2 linked regions of the Homo sapiens genome follow. The protein of the gene in region 1 purifies or fractionates together with the protein of each later gene. This does not show direct contact. Each region holds a gene or a part of one and is shown on either strand. Other genes may lie near its edges. The genes, in order: ADCY3 and TNFRSF21.

Evidence for each region.
Region 2: the proteins of ADCY3 (region 1) and TNFRSF21 fractionate together in Homo sapiens (co-fractionation; one large-scale study listed by BioGRID). This does not show direct contact.

Annotation. Positions count from the first base shown.
Region 1 is NC_000002.12:24,836,662-24,840,477, reverse strand, and holds part of ADCY3 (adenylate cyclase type 3), read left to right. Parts: intron 1-446; coding exon 447-605; intron 606-1,565; coding exon of another isoform or gene 1,566-1,631; intron 1,632-1,855; coding exon 1,856-2,033; intron 2,034-3,432; coding exon 3,433-3,561; intron 3,562-3,816.
Region 2 is NC_000006.12:47,303,141-47,306,956, reverse strand, and holds part of TNFRSF21 (tumor necrosis factor receptor superfamily member 21 precursor), read left to right. Parts: intron 1-3,816.

The sequences.
Region 1 (3,816 bases):
TACCCCAGGGGTGGTAGTCCAGGAACTCTAACATTCTCTCCCTGCCCTGTCAGACACGTTCAGGCAGGGGGCTGTTCACGGCTATTTTCTTCACCTCTGTGTCTGCAGCACCTTGAACGTGCCTGGCACATACTTGATGCTCAGTGAAATATTAACTGCACGAATGAATAAAAGAGTAATTGGCAGAGAGAAACTGAGGCCCCTCGGGAAGTGGGGATAGGGAGGAAAGTCGCTTGGTGCCCTCGTCCTGCTGGCCTGTGATGCCTGACTCTGGGCTGGCCCTGGCCTGCCTTACCCCCCACCCAACACCAAGCTGTGGGGACCTTGCCAGGCCCCCTCTTGTGGAGGGGAAGAGGCCCACAATGAATTTCTCCTGCAGGAGCAGGGGCAGCTGGCTGCCTCGTGAAGGCCACACCCTGACCCTCCTTTCTGTGTGTACCTGGCAGGTATGTGCGGGAGAAGACCAAGACTGGGGTGGACATGCGTGTGGGGGTGCACACGGGCACCGTGCTGGGGGGCGTCCTGGGCCAGAAGCGCTGGCAGTACGACGTGTGGTCGACTGATGTCACTGTAGCCAACAAGATGGAGGCCGGCGGCATCCCTGGGTGAGTGCCATTCCAAGGGGGCAGGTTTGAGGACTGGGGAGGGGACCGTCCCCTCCATCCCCCAGGGCTGTGACCCTGATGAGGGACAGGGGGCCTCAGAGAAGGCCTCCCTACAACCCCGGAACAGCATTCCTCCTGTCTCGCCCTGGTCCTGGCCCTGGCTAAGGCCGTTCTGACCTGCCTTGGGGTGAGGCCTCTTTGGGCCTGATATTGGATGTGGCTTTTCCTTCCTGGACCCTGCAGTAGCCTGTCCTCCTGTCCCCTTTACCGACTTAGGGGGCTGCCTCCCCTTTACCCACTAAGGGGGCTGCCCCAGCTCTCCTTATGTCAGAGCCCAGGTCTCCCCAAAGGGAGAGTAATGAGCAGTCATCAGCTAGCGGGCTCGCAGGCAGCGTTTTGCAGGTCGCAGTGCGATTACACGCCTTACTTGAGCTCCCTTACAGGATAATGGAGGCCCTGCCTTTAGCAGGGCGAGGCTGAGGGAGGATCAGCCCAGCCTTCCCCATCTGGGCCAGGGAGCTTCCTTCAGTGGCATTTAGGATTCTTGGCCTCAGTGGTGACTCCTCAGAAACAGGTTTTATTATCTCTTGGCAGCAGGGGTTGCAACTGAGAAACGTGCAAGGTGGGGGATAATTGGATCTTGTGGCTCACGCCTGTAATCCCAGCACTTTGGGAGGCCGAGGTGGGTAGATCACCTGAGGTCAAGAGTTTGAGACCAGCCTGACCAACATGACGAAACCCCATCTCTACTAAAAATACAGAATTAGTCGGGTGTGGTGGTGTGCACCTGTAATTCCAGCTACTCTGGAGGCTGAGGCAGGAGAATTGCTTGAACCCGGGAGGCAGAGGTTGCACTGAGCCAAGATCAAGCCACTGCACTCCATCCTGGGCGACAGAACAAGACTCTGTCTCAAAAAAAAAAAAAAAAAAATTCCTTATCGCATTTGATCTGCTTTACAGCGGATCAAAGATTGAAGAAAGATTGTACTCCTGTGTCGTGGCTCCAACACTGAGGCTGAGATGGGAGTAAGTGCCATACGGCCCACACAGCTAGTTAGCGGCCCACACAGCTAGTTAGCGGCCCACACAGCTAGTTAGTGGCAGAACTGCCTCCACTTGGCCTCTGCCCCACATGCCCGAGAGACACGGGGCCGAGCAGCAGCCGGTGCAGCCGTGGTCCGTGGACTGTCCCCTGGGGGTGTGAGGGCCACCTCTGGCCGACGCTCAGGGCCTCTCTCTCTGCAATCCAGGCGCGTGCACATCTCCCAGAGCACCATGGACTGCCTGAAAGGGGAGTTTGATGTGGAGCCAGGCGATGGGGGCAGCCGCTGTGATTACCTAGAAGAGAAGGGTATTGAAACCTACCTCATCATTGCCTCCAAGCCAGAGGTGAAGAAAACAGCCACCCAGAATGGCCTCAATGGCTCGGTGAGTTCCCCACCCCACCCCACCCACCCCACCCACCCCACCCCTGGATTAGGGGGTTGGAAAGGAGGAGATTAAGGAAAGATTGCAGAAGAGGTGGCAGGACCCAGCAGTGGCTGGCTGTGAGAGGTGAGTGGCAGGCTGGCACCCTTCCCAAGGGAGAGCTGGTTTCTGGGGGAGATGGTGAGTGTAATTCATGGCAGGTTGCAATGGAGGTGACTGAAGCATATCCCAAGACCACATCCAGGAGGGGGCCGCTGGAGATGTGTCGGTGGCGCCCAGGAGAGCAGCTGGGTTGGGGCTCAGGGTCTCCTGCATGGAGGAAGTGAGTGAAGCCACAGGAGTGACGTGGATGCTCAGGGAGAGGCTCAGAGAGGAGGGTGGGGGTGGGGTGACTGGTCATGGGGGAGGAGGACCAAGGCCAGGAAGGTTTCCTGAGTGGGAAATGAGGGAGGAATGAGATAGAAGTAATAGAGCAGGGGTGTCTAATCTTTCGGCTTCCCTGGGCCACATTGGAAGAAGAAGAATTGTCTCGGGCCAAACAAAAAATACTGTGGGTTGAACAAGCTTGCAATCGTGCATCCTGTGGGCCTGCCCTCTGGTCTTTTTGTGGGATCCCCCGAATATCTACAGACCTGAAGCACTCAGCAGCTTCCCCAGGTCTGTCCACCAACCCCCAAACACCTCCTGTCAGTCTGATTAGAAACCACCAGCAGCTGTTGCAGAAATGGATCCCTTTACCATCCCCTGCTGAATCTGGAGGTTGTCTTATTTTTTGTAATCTCATGTCAAAACCCTTTCCTCCAGTTATGAGAGTCCATCTAACAAGACTTGGAATTAAGGAGCTTGGTGACTGTCAGGGAAGTCGTGTCATTTGAGACTGCTCTATGGCTGAGGCTTTGCCTAATTATGGCTAAAGCAAAGCCCACTCTGGTGAGGCTGCCGGAGTGAAGGCTGATACTCCCCGCTGATTCTAACCTCGATGTCAGTCTCATCCAGTGTCATTTTAAAGGCTGTCTCTGACAACTCCCAAATTTGTATCTCCACCCCCAGTGTCTTCCCTGCACTCAACATACAGCCACTTGTACGTCTCCATTTGTACATATAATAGGTATCTTAAATGCCACCTGCCCAAAGCTCCTGCCCTCCTTCCCACTCCATAACCTGCTCTCCCTCGGTCTTCCCATCTCAGTTAATGGCAGTTCCATCCTTTTATTAACAACTGCTCAGACCAAAAAGTTTGAAATCATCCTTGACGCCTCACTTTGCAATCCACAAGCAAGTTCTGTGGCCTCAGATTGCTCTCTAATCCCACCGCCTCCCACGCCCTTGTCACTTCCAGACCTGTCCACGCCACTCTCATCCCATGCCCAGATCATGGCTGAGCTCTCCTTTCCTCTAGGCCCTGCCCAATGGAGCACCAGCTTCCTCAAAGTCCAGCTCCCCTGCCCTCATTGAGACCAAGGAGCCCAACGGGAGTGCCCACAGCAGTGGGTCCACGTCGGAGAAGCCCGAGGAGCAGGATGCCCAGGTATGTGCAGGGCTCAGGGCAGGGGGTCACTGAGGGCCAGATGCGGGCAGGCACCAGGAAGCAATACGTTCCTGCAGCAGGAGTCCTGTGCTGGGGAGACCTGGCCACCACCCAGGACCTGCTCCTGCTTAGCACTGTAACCATGGACAGGTCACCCCTCCAGCCCCGCAAAACCCCACTGTCTCCTCATCAGTTACATGCCGGGGTGAGTAAGGTCAAAAGAGGTGCTTAGCTCGGAGGCCTTTGTAGCTCTGA
Region 2 (3,816 bases), on another chromosome or scaffold:
GTGAACATAACGGACATCAGGTACTGGAGCCTGGGTACACGTGGCAGGGTACTCAGAACACTACTGGGGGAGGTGGGCAAGTTAGTGGCCTGCCCACGTATTACAGTTAGATTAAAAAGTAATAATCCCAGTAAAATGTTCTATTTATTATGTCTTTTAATGCTCTTCTTTCAAATATCTCCCTTTTTGTGTGATAATATTTATTGTCATCATTTTTGTGTTATGACTTTTTGTTTGTCATGACCGGCTAACTGCATGAAAAATAGCTTACTATAAGCTTATAAAAATACAAATATATAGGTACACAATATGATATAATATATACACATGTATATAGCAATTGTATATGTATAGAGAGAGCAATTGCTACATGCCAGGTGCTTTGTATACAGTATCTCATTTATTCATAGCATCTTTGTGAAGCAGGTGATATTGTCTCCTTTTTATAGTTGAGAAAATGGAAGCTCCCAGAACTTCATTGGTTTGTCCCAGGCCACACAGCTTGCACGTGATATTGCTGGGGCCAGAACCCAGGACTGCCTGGCTCTTCAGCTCATGTCCTCCCTTAGCCCTGTGCCACACTGCGTGTTTCACAAGTCCAAATTGCTTGATAATGAAATGTAACAACAGAGAAGGCTCACTGGGGAAAAGTTAAGAAGGTGGTTTGGTTTGTTACAGAACGTGAATGAGAATTACAGGAATGCCTTTGGAAGGAAGTATTCTTGCTGCTTGCACTTCTATTTCTGATGAGTGTCTGCATGATAATAGAAAGTAAAACATACACTGAAAGACAAGAGCTGGGTTCAAAAGTCTGGGGCTCAGGTGGACAAAACATTCTTGTTGCTCGACACCCAGTAAGTCTAGTGTGCATGATTGTGCTTTGTCTTCAGAATCTAAGCTTACCTTCCACCATCTTGACTTTACCAATTGTACTATTCTGCCTGAGACACTTACCCTTGCTATATCATATCTCTGTAAGGCAGAGACAAGATCCATGAGAGCTTTAGGTTTGTGCCAGTGATAAGGAATGCTCTAGAATGGCTTGCCCAGAGTGACACTACTTAGTCAGAGATGCCCCTTGCCCTCGGGGAGCTCGCTTTAACTGCATAGGTAGGATTTTGGCAGTGAGGCCCTCAGAAGAGAAGGGAGCCATAATTGGTAAAGATATGAGGTCTGAAGTTTTAGAAAACTCTTTTGCAAGCATTATGAATTCCAGATAGAGGGCTATTTGCTGTTATAGCCTGTCCAGCTGTGCGTTTGCCTAGAAAGTGCCAAGTAATAGTGTTTTTCTCTGTTACTGAAACTAGACATGTAGCTTAGTGCTACCTCCTGACCATCATTTATCAAAGTACATTACCTCGTACATTGGCAATTCACTTTGGCTGTTTGGGCAGGTGTGGAGTGGTCTGGTGGGGGCTGAAGTTCTGAATCATGTCAAGACTTGGTGGCAAATTCGAGCAGAACTTTAAATTAGAGCTGATATTATATCCAAAAGATTTTCTCTCTCCTATATATCTTAGCTCTACAATCCTAGAATGTGAAAGCTGGAAGGGAGCATAAAAAATACTGATTTAACACCCTGTATTTTTTGGTTGAGAGAAAAAAAAATACTCTACTGGGGAAGTGACTGCTTTTTCATGTTTACAAATGAAACTGCATCGAGCACCCTTTCTAAGTGAGGCACTATTCTGGGCAGTGGGAACCCAGGGATGAATTGGGATTTGGATCTTGCCATGAAGGTACAATTCGTATGGTATATAAAATGAGCATGGCCATCACCAGTGCTGGTTGGGTTTTACTCGCTCATGTGGAATCACTGGATGAATGTAGTATACTTACCTTAATACACAAAATATGATTGATGTTAAAATCTTTAAAATACCTGAAGTAACTTTGGCTCTTAGTCTGAGAATAAGAGAAAAAAAAGACTTTCAAATCTGAGAATGACATACGTTAGCCTCAGTAGAGAAAGCAACTTCTAATCAGAGGAATGGGGAGCGCAGAACCTGTGCTGGAATGCAGGAGTCCTGACCGACCCCATGAGTTATCATTACAGTCAAAATGTGTATAATGGAATTGAGCTCTGTCATCTGAACTGTTTCTGAAGGCATATGTTTGAATCTTCCCCAAGTCCAGTACAAAACAAACACACCTCTAGTGTAAATAAACTACACAAGTAAATCAAATCAGCAATAAAAAAAATTCCTCGTAAATGGGATTTAAGGACTACCTTAAGTTGGGAAGGGAAAAAAGGGAGGCTTGAAAAGGCATATATCCACCAAATTCCTGCATGACATATTTTAGTGTGGCTAAATGTAGACAAAGTCTATCAAGCAGGATATAGTAAGCACAGTTAATGCTGTATATTCTGGGGCAGTTTGAAGACAGTCCTTTTCTCCAGGTATGCTATTATTGGGTCAGAACAAATAGGTGGGAGCTTCTGGGCTGGCTCTGGCAGGTGGTCTTTGTCCTTTCTTCATTGTAGACCAGAATGTGGAGACATCACACTTTAACTTTGCAGGCAACTATATCCACGAAGATGAGAGGTGAAGCCTCTTTGGAGGCTGCATAGACAGTTTGCAAATTAATTTTGTGTTCAGCTGGTCCTTCATAAAGCATGTAAACTCTAATTGCCTTAAATAAACATCTTTTTTTTTTTTTTGGTTTTTTTTTGGTGACACGAAATGATCCGGTGCATTATCAGATCATTACTATTCAGGGGCTGGTATGAATTGAGTGACTTTTCCTTGTGCTTATTTTCCAGAAAGCACTAATATTCTGTTGGCTTTCTTTCCCCAAGCAGGCCTGGCAAATTCCGGTGATGCCAGGTCACCAGCAACTTCTTGGCAAACTCAGGTGCTTCTCTTCTGTGACAAGAAGAGCCCAGGTTATCTCAGAGCTTTGGGCATGTGTCCAGTGATCACTTGGAGCTGACTCAGTGTGGACCATTAGGCAAAGATATGTCTGTTTGACAGAATGACAATGGGAGCCATAATAGGAATCAATTTGGTTCCCAAAGTTGGATCCTCATTTAGCATTAGCAGAAGGCTGGGCCTTGTGGCTGTAGCAGCAACAGCTGCTGAGCTTTGATTATTTAGGATAGGGGCGAGATCATGAATAAATACTGGCCTTGCCCCAGTGTTTGTGTTTGTCAAATACCAAAAAATAAAATGGGAATCCTAAATTGGCTTGCATGCTGCCACCCAGCTTTCTTACCACCTTCATTTCTAGCCTGAATCCAAGAGGAGAGGAGCTTGGGTAGAGGTTATAACCCAGGAGGAACCTGGCAGATATCAGTGAGTACAGGCAGGACTGAGGGCTATACAGAGGTGGGGTTCACTGATACTTAGGCTGTTGACTCAAAGCAATAGTAAGCAATAGTGATCTCAGTGAGATCAGTGAGCAGTAGTGATCTCACTGTTCTTGAGAGGTGCTAAAGGCCACCAGAAGATTTTCTTGTCAGTATCCTGGCTTTGGAGATGACAGATGTGTGCAGTGGTGGGAAAGTTGCGCTCAGAGAGACCTCAGGCAGGTGTGGGACTGAGCAGGGTGTGGGTGGGGATCAGAACATTGCCCTGTGGCTTCATATTTAAAAATTATGCCTAAGACTTTGTGCTACACAAAAATAAAAACAAGAAAACTAAGGGGGGCACTTAGTAAGCTAAGTCATAGCAAGGCTCATTATCTAATCTTTATATACTTTTCTATTTGTTCGTCTCCTGTCAGTACTGCTGTGTGGCTCTGTTGCTTGGTGCCCTTGCAAATCTATCTGTTTTGGGAAAAGGAACATGAGCTTAATGGATTTAGGAGAGTGGA